Linked DNA regions of Homo sapiens. The protein of the gene in region 1 purifies or fractionates together with the protein of each later gene. This does not show direct contact. Each region holds a gene or a part of one and is shown in the gene's direction. Other genes may lie near its edges. The genes, in order: PYGL, PFKL, HSD17B4 and HK1.

Evidence for each region.
Region 2: the proteins of PYGL (region 1) and PFKL fractionate together in Homo sapiens (co-fractionation; one large-scale study listed by BioGRID). This does not show direct contact.
Region 3: the proteins of PYGL (region 1) and HSD17B4 fractionate together in Homo sapiens (co-fractionation; one large-scale study listed by BioGRID). This does not show direct contact.
Region 4: the proteins of PYGL (region 1) and HK1 fractionate together in Homo sapiens (co-fractionation; one large-scale study listed by BioGRID). This does not show direct contact.

The regions. Positions count from the first base shown.
Region 1 is NC_000014.9:50,905,833-50,910,967, reverse strand, and holds part of PYGL (glycogen phosphorylase, liver form), read left to right. Parts: intron 1-865; coding exon 866-1,073; intron 1,074-2,012; coding exon 2,013-2,147; intron 2,148-2,630; coding exon 2,631-2,697; intron 2,698-5,135. UniProt on the Homo sapiens protein: Allosteric enzyme that catalyzes the rate-limiting step in glycogen catabolism, the phosphorolytic cleavage of glycogen to produce glucose-1-phosphate, and plays a central role in maintaining cellular and organismal glucose homeostasis.
Region 2 is NC_000021.9:44,309,738-44,314,872, forward strand, and holds part of PFKL (ATP-dependent 6-phosphofructokinase, liver type), read left to right. Parts: intron 1-1,268; coding exon 1,269-1,346; intron 1,347-2,367; coding exon 2,368-2,557; intron 2,558-3,240; coding exon 3,241-3,406; intron 3,407-3,900; coding exon 3,901-3,945; intron 3,946-4,175; coding exon 4,176-4,284; intron 4,285-4,907; exon of another isoform or gene 4,908-5,135. UniProt on the Homo sapiens protein: Catalyzes the phosphorylation of D-fructose 6-phosphate to fructose 1,6-bisphosphate by ATP, the first committing step of glycolysis.
Region 3 is NC_000005.10:119,454,782-119,459,916, forward strand, and holds part of HSD17B4 (peroxisomal multifunctional enzyme type 2), read left to right. Parts: intron 1-1,533; coding exon 1,534-1,587; intron 1,588-5,135. UniProt on the Homo sapiens protein: Bifunctional enzyme acting on the peroxisomal fatty acid beta-oxidation pathway.
Region 4 is NC_000010.11:69,391,847-69,395,346, forward strand, and holds part of HK1 (hexokinase-1), read left to right. Parts: intron 1-278; coding exon 279-462; intron 463-3,103; coding exon 3,104-3,259; intron 3,260-3,500. UniProt on the Homo sapiens protein: Catalyzes the phosphorylation of various hexoses, such as D-glucose, D-glucosamine, D-fructose, D-mannose and 2-deoxy-D-glucose, to hexose 6-phosphate (D-glucose 6-phosphate, D-glucosamine 6-phosphate, D-fructose 6-phosphate, D-mannose 6-phosphate and 2-deoxy-D-glucose 6-phosphate, respectively).

The DNA.
Region 1 (5,135 bases):
GATACATCTAATCCACAAATAAGCTCTCACAGTAAAGCAGAAAAGTGGTCCTGACCTTTGTAGTCAAAGGAAGTGCTTCAGGCAGCTCTAATTTGCGTGCAAATCAGCCTGAAAGGTCAGAGGCTAGATGTCTAGCCCCAGGCACACCTCAATTACGTGTGGCTTATTTCCCTGCAGGAAAAGTGGAAGGAAGGAGGTGAGAAGTAGAAGGAATGCAGACAATCCAGTCTCCTCAGGTTGCCAAAGAGGAGTCCTGGAGGGACACTCTGAATGTTATGGATCAAGAGAGAGAAGTTCAGCCTGGGCAGCATAGGGAGACCCCATACATACAAAAATTTTAAAAAATTAGCTGGACATGGTGGTGCTCGCTTGTAATTGCAGCTACTTGGGAGGCTGGGGCAGGAAGATTGCTTGAGCCTAGGAGGTCAAGGCTGCAGAGAGCTGTAATCGCACCACTGCACTCCAGCCTGGGTGACAGAGAGAGACCCTGTACCAAAAAAGAGAAAGAAAAAAAGAGAAATTTCAATATATTTTATAAAGTAGAAGAAATAAAAATAAAACTGTAACAAAAATTGGAAGGAATAAAAGGAAGAAGAGAAATGTAGTATCAATGTTTGTCGCAGTCAATAGATACTCTTCAAAGTTTATAGCTCGAGAAAGAAATACAAGCATATAAAATGGACAAAAGTGGTTGCCTGAGTCAAGGGGAAAGAGTGTGATCTGCCTTCTAGACCATTTGAATGTTTATCTTAATGTGCATGTATTACTTTAATTATCAAAACAGCCCAACTTAATAAATGCTTCAATACAATACAAGCAGATCTAGACAGACAAAATTACTAATTTTAACTTACCTTTCTTGCAGTCATTCCAGCCACAGATCTGTCAGAGCAGATTTCCACTGCAGGCACCGAAGCCTCGGGGACAGGCAATATGAAGTTCATGCTAAATGGGGCCCTAACTATCGGGACCATGGATGGGGCCAATGTGGAAATGGCAGAAGAAGCTGGGGAAGAGAACCTGTTCATCTTTGGCATGAGGATAGATGATGTGGCTGCTTTGGACAAGAAAGGGTAAGAGAATAGCTTCTCTTTGCTAGGCAGGACTGCCCCTCCCCCCTAGAAGGTATGTGACCTCAGAGGGCTTCCTGCCCACACCGATATCCCACTGAAATTGGATCACATAAGAGGTGGCAGCAGAACATCTCCCACGATGAGGCAGGAGAGCCTCCTGGCCACAGATTAATATTATTAAACCCAGCAAATAAAAGTACAGACACATGGAGGAGTTGCTATTTGTTATCGGCCATTGCAGAGCTGGCCTCAAAGAGCTATTTTTCCTCCGTATGTATGATTTTTACTTTGATCAAAAGATGAACCAGTTTCTAGTTGGAAGGGTTGCCTATAATTTAAATCATGATCTAGTGCTCCTTTAAGATATCAAAGAAATGCACTAAAATGTGATAGAGAATAGATACGGGTGTACAGAAGTAATTGGAAACATTTATTTTCACTTCATATCTGGATGGGTTTATTAACCTGAGTTCAAGCACAAAATAAAGAGTACTGCCCAAAGAAGTAACATTTGGAGGATGTTGAATATACTTCCTGACCCTTGGAAGTCAGTTTCACTCAGTAGCAACAACTTTTGAGAATCTGTGGATCCAAAAAGCAACTGATCTACTTAATACAATGTTCATTTAAAGCCATAAAGTCTGCTTTGAAATGGACCTTGCTGTATTCTACCACATCAGACTCTTGATGTTTGACTAGAGTTTTCATTATCTATTGTTCTTAGTGTCTTTGGTTATAAGGAATCAAATTTACAGGAAGAAAAACTTACAGATCTAGTTAAAAGTTATATATACTCATGGTGAAATCTATAATGAAGTCTTTGAATGCTAGTATTTCTGAATGTATTTTTTCACAGTGAATGCAGTGTCTAGTGTGTTGTTAATCACACAACACAATAACAGAGCCTTTTTTTATCACCCACCCACCCCTACCCCACAGGTACGAGGCAAAAGAATACTATGAGGCACTTCCAGAGCTGAAGCTGGTCATTGATCAAATTGACAATGGCTTTTTTTCTCCCAAGCAGCCTGACCTCTTCAAAGATATCATCAACATGCTATTTTATCATGACAGGTGAGTTCCCATAAGAAGATGGTGCTATTTGGATCATGAAAGGGGGACAAGAAAATCTTAAACCAACCAACTCTAAAACCAACAAGAAAATCTTAAACCAATCTTAAACCAACTTAAACCCACTCATGTAGATTAGCATAGATTAGCGTGATCTGCTCAGGTAGTTTAGGCTTGGGGAAAAAGTTAGATATTCTCCACCAGCGATGCCAGTAAGGTTTAAGAATAACACACACAAATCTGGTTCTCTTTTTCTCCTTCCACTGATATTCCCAACTTCCAAATGCATCCCAGTGATGACATTCTCACATGTGAGAACCATAAGAAGGTTGAGGGCTGGTTAAAAGTCTTACAAACAGAAATATGAATTTGGTAAACCAGCCATGCCTGATATTAAGCAAAAGATGATTTTACATGGAATTTTAGCATATATCTATTAATGAAGATTTTGACTGTTTTTTTCCTCTTCCACTCACAAAATAAAAGGTTTAAAGTCTTTGCAGACTACGAAGCCTATGTCAAGTGTCAAGATAAAGTGAGTCAGCTGTACATGGTGAGTAAATTGCCAAGATTTATAAAGAAAACCAGTTTACTATGATTCATTAAAATGTGGGTTTTTTAATTAAATGCAAATATCAGATCCCCATGTAATATCAGATCCCCATTAAGCAATCAAAAAAAAAACAACAAAAACAAACAAACAACCACAACAAAAAAAAAAACCTTGTCTTTTCCCAAGTTCAGGCCAAGGTTGAGATTTGACATTTCAGCAGGAGTTGTAATTTTTTTTTTTTTTTTTTTTTGAGACAGATCTCGCTCTGTCACTCAGACGGGAGTGCAGCGGCGTGATCCTGACTCACTGCAACCTTCACCTCTCGGCCTCCCAAGTAGCTGGGATTATAGGCACGTGCCACCACACTTAGCTAATTTTTGTATTTTTAGTGGAGATGGAGTTTCACCGTGTTGGCCAGGCTGGTCTAGAACTCCTGACCTCAGGTGATTCACCCGCCTCTGCCTCCCAAAGTGCTGGGATTACAGGTGTGAGCCACCATGCCCAGCCAGTTGTAAATTTTTTAATATCCAAGTTTTTTAAAAGTCACAAATAATTCAATATTTTTTGAGCACCCACTCTGTAGCAGACATGTCCTGGAAGCTAAGGAAATAAAGCCTCAGAGGGGCATTAGGCGTCTTTTTTATGCCGGGCACTGTGCTGGCACTGAGAACACAGCATGAGCAAAGTTGAGGTCTCTCCCTCCCTCCCCTCCCTCAAGGAGCCTGTTTGAACATCGAGATTCTTAACCAGAGGTACACATCAGAATCACCAAGGTAGCTTCATCATAGTACAGATGCCAGCCCCCGCACTGAGAGATTCTTTCCCAGTAATGGGTGGGGTCATCAGTATTTGAGAAACCTGCCATGATGATTCTAAGGCTAAAACATGGTTTTTTAAGATAAGGACTGACCCCTATTCTCTGAAAATTGCAAAATAGGTACCTCTTCTGGACTTCTCATGGAGGGGGCTGTATCAATAGAATATAAATTCGTAGAAAGAGAAAGGTGTTCATAATTGAATTTTTAAAAAAAGAAAGAAGAATAAGGAAGACAATACTATACTGAGGGGAAAAAAAAGGGATGGGTAGAGCCATGTGAATAAGCCTCTGCATGCAAAGTTATACGCTTTATCAAACAACTCTCTAGCTGTGTTTTGTAAATATGTAAAAAGGTTGATCATCTCTGATAGGAGAGACTTTTAGTGAATTTCAGATACCCTAGAGGAATGGATACTGGAGGGGGCTAGCTCTGTGCCAAGACTCCAGGGTGGGTTTTACTAACATTTCTTTCTACTCCTTTCCCAAGGCAGATAAAAGGGTAGTTCCTACTGTCATCCTAAATGTCCCACTGGGATTTTAAAAAGGATCATTCAACGCCTGTGCTGCTTTACAGCCCTTATCTTCTAATAGAATAATGGCCAGTCCCCCAGTGGCATATAGACCAGAATAAGTTCAAGTTAATGGCTACAAACAAGCAGGGCAGTGCTAGAGCTAAGCTCAGGGGCTCACTACCTGCTTCCTGTACATTGGAGAGAAAAGCCATATACAGGCCGCAAGAATGCAAAGACACAGGGAAGAGAACGGCCACCTCAAGACAGATCAATAAAACAGCACAGGAAAGAAAAATATGAACAAGGGCAAGGACAAATGTGAATGTCTCCTCTGTTAAAATTATGGCCCAAATCCAAACGATGCTCATCTAGAAACCCAGCATTTGATTCGGTCTTTCTTGTTCATTAGTGCTAATTGCAGCTTTTTACTCTTAACAATGATTGTATTGTTGAGACTTAGTAAACATGACCCATATGACTGGGAAGTCTATTCATTATCCATTTAAATAGTTAAAGAAAATGAAGAGAGAAAGCTTTTATCCTCCTCTTATTACAGGAAGCTTCCAAAGTCTGAATAAACAAATTTCAGATGCTGTTTTGCTGTACCTTAAGGAATGATGGTAGTTTTAGTCTTTCTCGTAAGCATTTATAATGCATTGATAACATTTTTGAATAATGTTCTGTTCACTTCCAATACACTTTTAGAGTTCCTTACAAAATTAAGAGGCTATAAAATAAATTCCTTCTTATCATATTCTTTTATATAAAAATTATGAGATTTTGATATATTTTTATTAAGGATAAAGACTCAATTGACCCTGTTTTGAAGCCCCAGTGGAGTGTTTGGGACTCAGTGTAAGCCTACTAGGGTGCGTATCTTCAGAAAGAACAAGAAAAGCTAAGTAGGTCAATAAAGCCTCTCATTGAATTGTTTGCCTGCATTATAGCTAACATTTTAGAGTAGTGTTTTTCAAACTCTATGAGCCATAGGATAAGTCTCTTGACATGGCATTTAGCAGACAATGGATTCCTCCCCTATAGTTTAAAGGGAAGCATCTTCATTCATAAGAAAGCATGGGAAATATGGCTTACATGCCAAAACATTGTAA
Region 2 (5,135 bases), on another chromosome or scaffold:
TCAGGGCTGGTACAACCAGAGGGGGCCAGGCTGGCCTGGCCTGAGCCGGAGGAAGTAGCTCTGTGGTCCCTCAGATCAGCCCCTGAGATGGGGCAGGGGCACCTGTCCCCCAGCCCAGCTGGTGGGGAAGGGAGGCTGTCAGGCTAGAAGCCCGCCATGGCCAGAGTGGGGATGTTCATGCGCCCCGCAGCGCGCACTATCCCTTGACCCCCTGCCTGCTTGAGGCACTTGCCCTCCTGGCCCCCAGGGCCCTGACACCTGGTTGGGGAGAAGGCGGAGGGAGGAGCAGAAGCCCACAGCTGAGCTGGCATCCGCCCTGGCCGAGGAATGGCTGCTCCACTGCCTCACCTCACGGCCTGGAGAAGGCTGCTGATGCCATGGAGGGACCGGGGCTGCACGGAGGAGGCCGCCCTTCTCCTCTCCACACCCTTAGTGAAATGCAGTCATGAGTGTCCCTCCCCTCAAACAACAAGAAAGGGCTGGCCGTGCAGTAGGAAACGGGCACGTGGCACGGAGGCTGTGCAGGTGCCATCTGGGAAATCCCAGGTAGAACCGCATGAGAGGCAGATCCACGGTACTGGATGGAAGGCCCAGTGTGGCCGGCGTGGCGGGACGCGGAGCCTGGAGCCCCTGCCTGGGGTGTTGCCGGCCCTACGAGCGATGGCCACTCGGGTCCCCTGGACCCAGGAGCTCCCTCGGGTGGGGGCCCGCCTGTAGGGAGGTGTGTGTGTTCTCAGCTTCCCGCTCTGGCGGGCAGATGGTAGCCTGGGCTGTTCACACGGCCGCCACACAGCAAGAGCACGCGCCGCACACCCCGCCGGCCGCATGCCTGGGAGGACTCCAGTGGGGACAGAAGGAGCCACGCACAGCAGCCTCTGTGGTGTCATTTCTAGGATGTTCAGAACAGGCAGACCTAGGATGCACCCTCAGGAGCTGGATGGCGGGCTCCGCTGGGGCCTTCGGGACGCTGAACTTGCCTGTGTGGATCTGGGTGGGGTGAGGGAGCTCAGACAGGCCCCTGCACCAAAGCACTTGCCACAGGAGTCACGCCCCGGGACACACGGACTCACCAGCTGTGCAGAGGGTGTCTGGAGCCCCCTAGGGGGCACCCGGACCCTGTTACCCAGGCCCTGGGATGATGGTGGGGCCTCACAGTCAGCACCCTGGTCCTGCTTTCTGCTGGTGGGGTGAAAATCCTGCTCCCAGACCACTTGCTGCCGGCCGCCATGGGGTCCCCTATCTCATGCCTGCCCCACTCTTGATTTCAGGGCTATGAGGGCCTCGTGGAGGGAGGTGAGAACATCAAGCAGGCCAACTGGCTGAGCGTCTCCAACATCATCCAGCTGGTGAGGCCTGGGAACGCGGATGCATGTTGCACTTGGACTCGCAGACAGACACACAGAGACAGACCTGCACACACAGACACACACACAGAGACAGACACGTGCACAAACACACACATGCAGACACACAGACATGCACACAGACGCACACACACACAGATGTGCACACACACAGATGCGTGCACACACAGACCCGTGCACGGACACACAGGCGCGCACAGACACAGACACGTGCACAGACACACACAGACATGCACACATACAGACACACAGACGTGCACACAGACACACAGACGCGCACACAGACACACACAGATGCACACAGACATGGAGACAGATACACATGGATAGACACATGCAGACACATAAATACACAGATACACACGTAGACACACAGATGCGCACACAGGTACACAGATACAGAAACATACAGACATATGTACTCAGAGTCACACACACACGTGCCCCATCGCACAGGGACTCAGGTTCAGGCCGACCCTGTCATCTGCTGCCATGGAATTGTTGGGTCGCAGGGTCATGGGGTTGCCAGGGGCCAGGAGGACCTGGAGACGTGGCCGTGCTGGGTCCTGGGGGAGCCCTGGCTGAGGCTGGCTATGAGGGGCCACGTGAGCGCACCTGGAGCTGCTGAGGCTTGAGCCCTGGAGGCCCTGGCCGGTTCCCTGAGTTGGTACAGGGCCTGTGTGTGCACGTGTGCACGCACATGTGTGTGGCAACCTATGCGTGTGTGTACTGTGCTTTCCAGTCTCCAAAGCCTTCCACTCTATTACCTTGGGGCTTCCCAAGCCCAGGACCGGACGGACATCATCCTCCTCTTTGTCTCTCCAAGGAGAGAGGCCCAGGGAGGTAGGGCCACCTCAGGTTTCCAGAGACCCCGGGGCTTCTGCCTCTCACTCTGCAGGGTCTGCCAGCCCCTTGCTGCCCAGTCCTGGGGTCCCTCTGGTGATCCCCAGGGGCTGTCTGCCGCCTGCCATCTCTCCTGAAGTTTCTGGTCTCCTCTGTGCAGGGCGGCACTATCATTGGCAGCGCTCGCTGCAAGGCCTTTACCACCAGGGAGGGGCGCCGGGCAGCGGCCTACAACCTGGTCCAGCACGGCATCACCAACCTGTGCGTCATCGGCGGGGATGGCAGCCTCACAGGTGCCAACATCTTCCGCAGCGAGTGGGGCAGCCTGCTGGAGGAGCTGGTGGCGGAAGGTGGGTCTGTGCCCGGCGCACTGTAGGCCCTGGGGTTTTGTTTTGCCGCTGCTGCCAGGCGTGGGAATGGGCAGGACAGAGGGACGAGGGATCCCTGGGTGCCCCGAGGCAGAGGAGGGGCTGTCTGGCCGTTGGCCGGGGAGGAGTAGTGTCTGCCAGCACGAGCTCAGATGTCTCCCAGAGATGGAGGTCAGTGCTCAAGCCTGAGGGAGGGCACCCAGGCAGTGCATGGGGCTGGTGGAGGCCGGTGTTGCTCACCCTACGCTGCGTAGACAAGTCTTCTCTGTGATTGATCCGAGTGAGATTCTGGACATGCATGGTCACAGTCTGCAGAAATAGAGTTGAAGTTGGGGTGACATAAGACACAGAGTCCCGAGATTGCTGCTTGGAAAGTGGCCTCTCGGAGCCATGTCTGTTCCATGTCCCTCATGTGGGGGACCCTGATGTGAGGCCTTGGCCGCTCTGCAAGGCACCCCAGAGGTCCCCCGTCTGCACTTGGCCCCAGCGGATCCAGCCATGCTGCCACAGGGTTCCAGGCAGGAGGAGGCTGAGCCTGGAACTCCGGGGCCCCTGCCGGGCTGCACGCCTGGGATGCGGGGGAAGGGGTGGCAGGAGAGGGGTCTCTGGCCCTGTGGTGGGGCCAGTGGAGCCTCAGCCAGGTCCTCCTGCTGCTCCTGGCCCAGGTAAGATCTCAGAGACTACAGCCCGGACCTACTCGCACCTGAACATCGCGGGCCTAGTGGGCTCCATCGATAACGACTTCTGCGGCACCGACATGACCATCGGCACGGACTCGGCCCTCCACCGCATCATGGAGGTCATCGATGCCATCACCACCACTGCCCAGAGGTGAGTGAGGCTGGCGCCGGCGGCCAGCCCAGGGCCCCTCCTCCCCGCACGGTGGTGAGGTGGTCTCAGGGTGACGGCCATCTGCAAGGGCAGTGGACTCTGGTAGCCCCAGCATCCAGGCCAGCCGCCCTCAGCCCCCAGCTGGGGGAACGCACAGCGGGCTCCACTCCCACTCTGCCAGGCCGCGGGGGGCCTTTGTGCAGCCCCTTCTGAGGGGCAGCTGCTTGCCCTGGGGTGTGACGCCCCCAAAGGAAGTCCTGGGCTGGCCAGGCCTGGGCTTGGCAAATGACCCTCAGCCTGGGAGGAGATCAGTCGAAACCAGCCCAAAGGCTGGAAGGATCCCAAGGTATCTTTTAGCTCAGAGCCTGGGCATGAGAAGGGGCTGTCCCCTGCCTGCCTCTCCATCCACTGGGTCCCTTGAGCACCCCGCAGGGAATCGGGCTGGCAGGGCCGTGTGGCTGGCACTGATGCATCCTCCTGTTCCATCTCCACAGCCACCAGAGGACCTTCGTGCTGGAAGTGATGGGCCGGCACTGCGGGTGAGGAGGGGCTTCCTGGCCCGCTGGGTGGCCCGGGTGCTGCTGGGGACCGCAGTGACAGGTGTGGCATATTTATTCTAGGGCTCAGTTAATGCCATGGGTGTGAGAGAGCCGGGTGGGGGCCGGGAGAGACAGAGAAGCTGTGGCCCAGAGTCGGACCTCTGGGTACAGGGAAGCTCCCCTCAACGGCTGGGTGGGGGTCCTGAGCAGGCAGGCGCTCGCTCCTCCAGGTACCTGGCGCTGGTATCTGCACTGGCCTCAGGGGCCGACTGGCTGTTCATCCCCGAGGCTCCACCCGAGGACGGCTGGGAGAACTTCATGTGTGAGAGGCTGGGTGAGGTGGGTGCCGTCCAGCCTGCTGGGGGCCGCAGGTGTCCTGGTGCACTGGGTAGCGCCCCTGGGGTTTTGGGACCAGCCTTGACCAACTCATCTATCACTCATGGGTTCATCAGCAGCTGCAGGTGCCCCTTGGGGGCGGGACACGCAAGGAGTGGGGGGCTACGGGGCTGACCTCAGTGAGGCACCTGTGGTCCTGCCCCCAGTGGGCAGGAGGCGGAGAGGGTCACTCAGGCTGCCGCCGCCCCAGGCTCAGCCCCGTGGTCAGTGTGGGGAGCTTGGTGAGGCTGCTTACTGGGGTGGGACTGCTGAGCCTGGGGCGGTGGGAGGTGGTTGGTTGTGAGGGAGTGGCCCCAGCAAGGTCCAGACGGCAGGGCTGTGGGGGTGGCGAGGCCAGGAGCTGGGCCAGTGGGGAGCAGGGCCTTCCCCTGAGGGCGGTCGGGGCCCGGGGGTGGGTTCTAGGCTGGAAAGATGTGTCGGAACGTGGCTGTAGCCACAGGGTGGACAGGAGGTCCCGGAAGCAGGAGAGGGTGGGGAGGCTGCTGGGAGGCCGAGACCGCCTCTGGGAGGGATGGGGGGGTGCCTGGTGGGGAGGGGTGTGTCTGGAGTGGGGGTGCCTGGAATGCCGCCCTCTGGTTCCCTTGGGGTGGAGTTGGGGGCTCTGGCCTAGAACAGGCTGACACTGCCCTGTGGACCCTGAGACCCCTCAACTGGGACAGGTCGGCCCCTTGGTGGGGTGGGGCTCAATGGTGGACCAGAGGCACGGGCCATTCAGGCTGTCCTTCGCCCACACCCGACCATGCAGGGCAAGGCCAGGGGCCCCCGTGGCTCTAGCTCTGTCCTCTGTGCGCTGA
Region 3 (5,135 bases), on another chromosome or scaffold:
CAGCTGATTTTTGTGGTTTGAATAGAGACGGGGTTTCACCCTGTTGGCCAGGCTGGTCTTGAACTCCAGACCTCAAATGATCCGCCCACCTCTGTCTCATAAAGTGTTGGGATTACAGATGTGTGTCACTACTCCTGGCCTTGGGTTGTTTTTGGAAGGGGCTAATAATTTATGTATCTCAGTTTGTTATTTGTATACTTATTGATTAATTTATACTAAATATAAATTGTTAATTAAATTTATTCATTTGTCAATGAAATTTATCAATTAACTTAAAATGTAAAAAATATACACATATTAAAAAATGTAAACAATACAGAAAAACAATCCAGAAGTAAGCCTTCCACCCCTTATTGCTAGCCACATAGTTCTGTCCTCCAGAGGTAACCACTAATTGCCAGTTTCTAATGTGTTTTTCCCGAGATACTCTATGCCTATAAAACTTCTCTCTTGGCTGGGGATGGTGGTGGCTCACGCCTGTAATCCCAGCACTTTGGGAGGCCGAGGTGGGCTGATCACGAGGTCAAGAGATCGAGACCATCCTGGCCAACATGGTGAAACCCCATCTCTACTAAAAATACAAAAATTAGCTGGGCGTGGTGGCGGGCGCCTGTAGTCCCAGCTACTCGCGAGGCTGAGGCAGGACAATCACCTGAACCTGGGAGGTGGAGGTTGCAGTGAGCCGAGATCATGCCACTGCACTCCAGCCTGGGCGACAGAGTGAGACTGGATCTCAAAAAAAAAGAAAAAAAGCAAAACTTTCTCTCTCTCTCTCTCTCTCTCTCTCTATATATATATATATAATTTCTTTTTGGATATATAAATTTACACCTTGTAGCTTTGAGTCAGAATTAAATATTTTCTGTATTTGATGACTGTGTAGTCAGGGTTCACTGTGGGATACAGAAACCACTAGATATTTTAAGCAGCAAAGGATTCAATACAGGCAATTAGGTTTTAGGCAGGTCTTCTTAGAATAACTCCTGAAACAATAGGAAATTGATCCATTAGAGGAGGCAATACCTCTGAGGCTGTCATTGGAGCTGTGCCACAGCCCAAGTAGCACTGGCACTAGGGACCTGAAGTATGGAAGCTGCCATCCAGGGATTAGGGAGCTGAATGAAGAAGTCGCTGCTATAGTCAGTTTCTGAATACCTAGGAACTTTCAAGAAAACTAGCTTCTTAACAACAACAGCCAGAACTCCCAGTAAGGTGGTCTCTGTCTCACTTACACCTTCTAAGTTTTATGCAGATGCATCAGATGGTGGAACCCAATTCACAGCATCCTAGCAGCTAAGTAGAATGGTAGGAAGTGGTAGTAGAATAGGTGGAAAAATACAGTTTTAAGCTTTCCAGCCTCTGCAAGCAGAAGAGAGTGGATAGGTTGAGAATGTCAGTGATAGGATAGGTTGAGAGTATCATTAAAATGTAATTAATTGTTCACCAATTTCTTTAAATGGGGATTGAGTTGAGCGGACCAAAAAAATTATGCTGACATTTCTTCAACTTTCTGATTATTTTGTTTTTGATTAGGATTGGGCCGAGCCTATGCCCTGGCTTTTGCAGAAAGAGGAGCGTTAGTTGTTGGTAAGTTGGTGTGTTTTTCTTTTTAATCTGTAGCTGATAACTGAAATACAATCTTTACAAGCTATCTTTGTCTTTCTATCAAATAATTTGTCAAGGTTGAATTTTATTATTAATTTTTACTTTTGCCAGAAGGTTTTTACCCCGACTAAGGCTGTCTGTCTAAATTACTTTTAAAAGGGAACCAGTTTCACAGAATTCCCAGCTTAACAGAATTGATAACGAAGGGCTAGGGGGTAGGCATGCTGGCTTGTGGCTATAACTCCAGTGACTCAGGAGGCTGAGGTGGGAGGATCGCTTGAGACCAGGAGTTCGAGCCTGCAGAGAACTATGATTATACCACTGCACTCCAATCTGGGTGATGGCGCAAAAAAAACCCTGTTTCTCACAGAAAAGGGTGGGGACAAGCATTTATTGTATAAAAGGAAATTCTTGACTTCAGTAAATTGTAGGCTGTAATTTTTTGAGACAGGAGGTTTGTCTACTGGTGCGAGATCAAAAGAGAGCCCCTGTAAGTGTATTGATAAAAGTAAGAAATAACTGAATTTTGAGAACTGGAAGTTTGGAGTCAAGGAATCTAAAGTATGGGTTTCTTGACTCTTTCATCAAAACTTTTCAGCTGGAAGTGTTTTAAAAAAATTTAATTGAGGGGGCAGTTACATGAGTTTTTGTTTGTGGAGGGGTCAGATGGAAGATACTGTATTGAAGAATCCTAAAGGTGGGAGGTTTTAGTAATCTGCATGGTTTGGACTGATCTAATGTGCTTGACAGTTGGTGTGGACACAGAAACGAATTTGTCCACAACTGAGCCTTTCTGGGGAATAACTAAATGGGTGCTAAGTGCAGGGGGATATGTAGGACCCAGTACTTATTAGCATATTTCCTGGGATAAAACTGTGGGCCCACAATGATCTTCTAATTTCAGCTTTCTGACATCTTAACGAGGCAATACAGAGAGACGAATTTTCATCAGTTTGTTCAGGGAGACACATATAACAAAAGAGTAAGCAAGCAACCAGGTTTTCTAAACAAGCCCTAAGCAGAGCACTTGATACACTTTTCTCCTTCATTGTGGATGTGTAGCTTATCTTTATGGAAGGAACACTGACGCTTTGGATGTTCCTTGTTTAAGATCATAGGCACTGTCTGCTAATCCAATCTGCTTCTTCTGGCAGGGATGAATTTTGACATTGTATTATTTGGACAGCGAGTATATATTTCAGGCCCACTTTGTCAGATTTTCCCAAGAATAGCTCATGTTGAGGCCTAAAGACACATGCTGTTACTATTTTTAATTTTCCTTCCTTTTTATGTTGCTATTTAGTTCTTAATATTTTTACCTTATATGTTTTTATTTATTTACATCTTTTCTGCTCAATTCCATAACGGCAAGGATCTTGTTTTATCTTTTGTATCTACTAAAGGACCTAGAATATTTCTTTGTGCAAAGAAGGTACTTTGTTCATTGGTTCTTTTATTGTTGATATACTTTTCTGGGGGAAGGGTGTGTTTGAGATTGGTTGAATACATTTCTTTTTTTTGTTCTTGACTAAGATATAAACTTAGTTTATAAACCTGTTTTGTAAAAAATTTTATAACAGTGTGTTCCTGTGCATCAATTTTCCTTTATTTCCCTGTTCCCTCTCAATTTCTTAAATTCAGATTAGGAGTATTTGAATTCTAAGAAAAAATTAAACAGAGATGCTGTGTCTATCTATTTTGTCATTGCATTATTATAGTAGAGATGATAATTGTGTCAAGTCCTGATAAAAGTCCAAGAATATAGAAGAAAAATATTTCATAAACTTGAATGAAGAGCCAGATTTAGTTTAGTATTAAGGAGGAGAATTCAATCCATGTGGAAGTGCAGAAATTTTGACTGATGTTTTCTATTCCTTTTTAAAGTCTGTGTCTTACCTGTTAGCCTTTTTACATGTACACCATAGACACCGTGTTTCCAAGTTGCATCACACACACTAATTTTTTTTTTTTTTTTGAGATGGAGTCTTGCTCTGTTGCCCAGGCTGGAGTGCAGTGGCGTGATCTTGGCTCACTGCAACGTCTGCCTCCGGGTTCAAGCAGTTCTCTGCCTTAGCCTCCCAAGTAGCTGGGATTACAGGCGCCTGCCACCAAGCCTGGCTAATTTTTTTTTTTTTTTTTTTAAGTAAAGATGCGGTTTCACCATCTTGGCCAGGCTGGTCTTGAACTCCTGACCTCTTTTTAGAAGTGGCATGTCACTTCTACCGACATTTCATTGGCCAAAGGAAATCATTTGGCTAAGCCAAAAGTTAGGGGCATCATTTAAGATAGTCTCCAATTTTGTGTTAATATGATTGCTATGTTTTATATTCCATAATATAAAGCTTATGGGATATTTAAATTTGGTATAAGAACTGCTAAGCCTTAGGCTGATACTGTAAAAAGGGACATTTGCTTTTGTGTAAATTACATCTTTCAGGAAATGCTTGTGCATTTCTTAAGTAGGTTATTGGGAATTCAGTAGTTTTGAGGTTTCCTCAGTAGGTGAGCTATATCTAGTTCTCTGAATAGTAAGTTTTATTTTGAGGACATAAACACAAGAAGGACTGACAAAAAGGAGCAAAAAGAACTCCTTAGTAAAAGAAAGGGAGTTCTACTCTTGAACTGAAGTAACACCTTTGGGTAAATTGAATTACAATCTTTTTAAGTAAGATTGACATGACTTTTCCGTGCTACAGTTACATAATAATGGTAAAGCTGAGTCTTAACTTCCTGTGGCCTGATGCTAGAGCCATTGTTTTTAACCCCTATGGGATCTTGACAGCTGGAAGGTGAACTGTAGTGGGCAAGGTGCATTGCCTTTGAAGTCAGGCCAAGTTTTAAATCCTGGCTCTGCTGCCTAATTATATGACCTCTCTGTTTATAGCTGTCTTAGCTAACTTCCGGGATTATGGTGAGGGTAAATGACAAAAAATTAAAGACTTTCGGAAAGGGAAGAGAAAGGAACCAATATCAGTCCCTGCTTACCATATATGACTCACTCTGCTCAAGAACTGGATATATCAAAGTGAAGGTCTTGTTGACTGAGGTCTTGTTGACTCAAGGCACATCCTAGCCCCCTTATACATGTTTCTCCTAGATGCTTAAAGGAAAAGCTCTGTGTCTTAGTCTGTTTTCTGTTGCTTATAACAGAACACTTAAAACCGGGTAATGTATTTTAAAAAAGGAATTTATTTCTTATAGTTATGTAGGCTGAGTAGGCCAGTGCTGAGGGGCTACATCTGGTGAGGAGGGCCTCCTTTCTGGTGGGGACTCTGTAGAGTCCCGAGATGGCACAGGGCGTCACAGGGCAAGAGGCTGAGTGTGCTGGCTCTCGTCTCTTTTCCTCTTCTTATAAAGCCACTAGTCTCACTCCCATGATAACCTGTTAATTCATTACCCGATTAATCTATTAGTCCATGAATAGATTAATGCATTTATAAGGGCAGAGCCCTCACAATTCAATCACTTTTTAAAGGCCCCACATCTCTTTTTTTTTTTTTTTGAGAGGGAGTCTCCCTCTTTTGCCCAGG
Region 4 (3,500 bases), on another chromosome or scaffold:
CTTCTATTAAAATAAACATAACCCTGCCTGGACGGGTGAACACATTGGCTCTTGGTTGAAAGTCAGCTAAGCAGGTGCCCTCTGGGTGATGTGGCTCAGACTCTCCATTTACATTTCAAATTTTTCCATTTCAAAATTGGGAAAGAAAAACTATTACTTTGTTCATCACAAAAAACGTGCCCCCTGCCTGTGGAACCTCAGGCCCCAGACCCCAGGCCCAGTTGCAAGACCCCCAAATGCAAGGCCACCGCTCCTCATTGCCCCCTCGTGTGTTCCAGGGACCGGCAGCAATGCCTGCTACATGGAGGAGATGAAGAACGTGGAGATGGTGGAGGGGGACCAGGGGCAGATGTGCATCAACATGGAGTGGGGGGCCTTTGGGGACAACGGGTGTCTGGATGATATCAGGACACACTACGACAGACTGGTGGACGAATATTCCCTAAATGCTGGGAAACAAAGGTAACCCCGCCTGGTGGAGAGGACACTCACAGTCAGGGTGGGGGCAGCACTTGGCTGCATTCTGCCACTTGCAGTGGAAGAAGTTTCTAGGAGGAGAGGTCTGAACAGAGGTTTCAAGACTGGACCCCCTGGCTCACTCCTGACCTTTGTCTTTTGGACAGCAGAGAACCAGGGAGGACAGACCCCCAACATGGTACAAGATGGCCCAGGGTTGATGCCTGTCTAGGGGCTGCCTGTGACTGTTTTTTAGCCTGGAGGATTCTGGCCTTCCGGTCCCCTTGCTGTGTTCCTTTCCCATCAGAATAACAAGGGGGTGGGGTGAGGGTGGCTGGGCGGCAGGTTGGTGTGAAGCAGAGGCCCTGTCGCAATCGTCCTTTCCTCCGTGAGCCTCCTGCACCACCTAGTGGCCTTGTGGAGCTTTGCAGCTCAGGTCTCAGGTACCATGTCTGAAATGGCAGTGTCTGCCCTTTGTCTCAAGCCCCCAGGAATCAGGCCATCCTCTGCCACGGCCAGGATGAGTTGGTCCAAGTTGTCTCCCTAGGAGCAGAAAGAAGGGCTGGAGCAGCACCCAGCATGAGTCACTCCCTAGCCCCCTCAAGGTTTTTGCCTTTTCTAAATACCACCCATGCTGTTATTTACTTAGTGCTTTTCTTCGAATCAGCTTACAGTTTTTTGTTTTTCTTTTTGTTTGAGGTGGAGTTTTGCTCTTGTTGCCCAGGCTGGAGTGCAATGGCGTGATCTCGGCTCACCACAACCTCCACCTCCCGGGTTCAAGCAGTTCTCCTGCCTCAGCCTCCCCAGTAGCTGGGATTACAGGCATACACAACCATGCCCAGCTAATTTTGTATTTTTAGTAGAGACGGGGTTTCTCCATGTTGGTCAGGCTGGTCTTGAACTCCCGACCTCAGGTGATCCGCCTGTCTAGGTCTCCTAAAGTGCTGGGATTACAGGTGTGAGCCACCGCAACCAGCCCTTATAGTCTTTTTCTTTTCTTTTCTTTTCTTTTTTTTTTGAGACAGAGTCTCACCCTGTTGTCCAGGCTAGAGTGCAGTGGTGCGAGCTCAGCTCACTGCCACCTCCTGGGTTCAAGTGATTCTCCTGCCTCAGCCTCCCAGGTAGCTGGGATTACAGGTGCACGGCACCACGCCCAGCTAGTTTTTGTATTTTTGGTAGAGACCAGGTTTCACCATGTTGGTCAGACTGGTCTCGAACTCCTGACCTCAGGTGATTGGCCCGCCTCAGCCTCCCAAAGTGCTGGGATTATAGGCGTGAGCCACCGTGCCCAGTGGCCTTTAAGGTCTTTACTGACATTTAATGAAGGAGGAAAAAGAGGAAGAACCAATAGTACCATAAAGAGATGGTAACTAAAAAATGAGTATAGTGAAGAACCGTGCTATTCAAGTCTAGCTGATGCTGTCGCCTACCAAATGACCTGAACTAAGACCCCCTTTGGGCTGAGTGCAGTCTATCATCAAAGTAATCCCAGCACTTTGGGAGGCCAAGGTGGGAGGATTGCTTGAGCTCAGGAGGTTGAGACCACCCTGGGCAACATAGGGTTGAGACCCTGTCTCTACTAAAAATTAATAACAATAATAACAACAATAATAGTAAGACCCCCTTGGTTAAAAAGCGGGGGGATCAGCAAGTGTTGGAAGGGGTTAAGGACATGTCAGCACCAAACTGGGGTGGTCTTTGTGGTGGAATGAGAAGGACTGGGTGGGACTTCGTAGTGGTGGCCCACCCCTCTGTGATTCCATTCTGTTTCATGTTCTTCCATGGACCACATGAAATAGGAGGAATCCTGGAGTTCCAAATTCCAGGGGACTCTTCTCAGCTTTGGGACACTGGGCTTGGGCATGTGCCATGGAAATGAATCAATCCTTTGTTATTTCTTGAGATCCTTGAGCATGGAGAGGGCAGGAAATTTGAAGTCCCAAGAACAGGTTGACCTCCAGTGTGTTGTGGTCACTGAATTCTCCCTCCTGTGTGGCCTCATCACTCTGCTGTGGGCTTGACCAGTACTCTGGGTATTTGCAAAACCTTTAGAAAAATCTAGAAACTTTCCTTTTTTTTGTCTTCTTGTTCCTTTAAGACTTAGCCCAGTCATTTGCTTATTCTGCAGATAGTTTTTGGGCACTTTCCTGAGGGCCCAGTGCTATGCTATGCTGTGCTGTGCCCTGGGGACTCAGAGCTGAAAAAGACACACATGCCCTGTCCTCTTGGGGCTGTCACTACAGCAGTGGTGGTGGGAGGCAGTGAGCTCAGGTGTGTTGTGAAGGAGGAGAATGGTGAGGTGTGTGGGAACCTGAAACAGGCAGGTAGAACCCAGGATCAGGAGGAGGACAGGCTCTCGGGGAAGTGACCTTGGGGCTGAGAGCTATCAGGCAGCTGAGGAGGGAGACCAGTCTAGCAGGTAGACATGAATGCTGGTGGTTTTGTTTCTGATGTGAGAGAGTGGAGGACTCCCTGGTCCTTCCTGGTCCTCCCACTCTGCCTCTGCGGCAGAGCACAGGGCTGGGCACATGGCTGTTGATGATGCGCTTGAGGGGCAGTAGGAGACGCGGAGTGACCGTGAGACCGAGGGGTGACAGTTCTCCTGGCCACTTCCCATAGACACCCCAGGCCCCTCCTCCTGTCTCAGGTATGAGAAGATGATCAGTGGTATGTACCTGGGTGAAATCGTCCGCAACATCTTAATCGACTTCACCAAGAAGGGATTCCTCTTCCGAGGGCAGATCTCTGAGACGCTGAAGACCCGGGGCATCTTTGAGACCAAGTTTCTCTCTCAGATCGAGAGGTGAGTGGGCAGTGTCTTCCCTGCCAGCGCCCACCCTTCAGAGGTCGCCTGGCTGGTGGATTGTGATGGGGGTGGTAGGGACCCTAGGGGACATTTTGGCCATTTTTGAGGATTTTTTTTCCTCTGGAATAGCAGACCCTGGGCATTTGCATAGTGAAATCTTATAATTTTATTATAAATTACTTTTCTTGGCCTGGTGTGGTGGCTCATGCCTGTAATCCCAGCACTTTGGGAGGCCGAG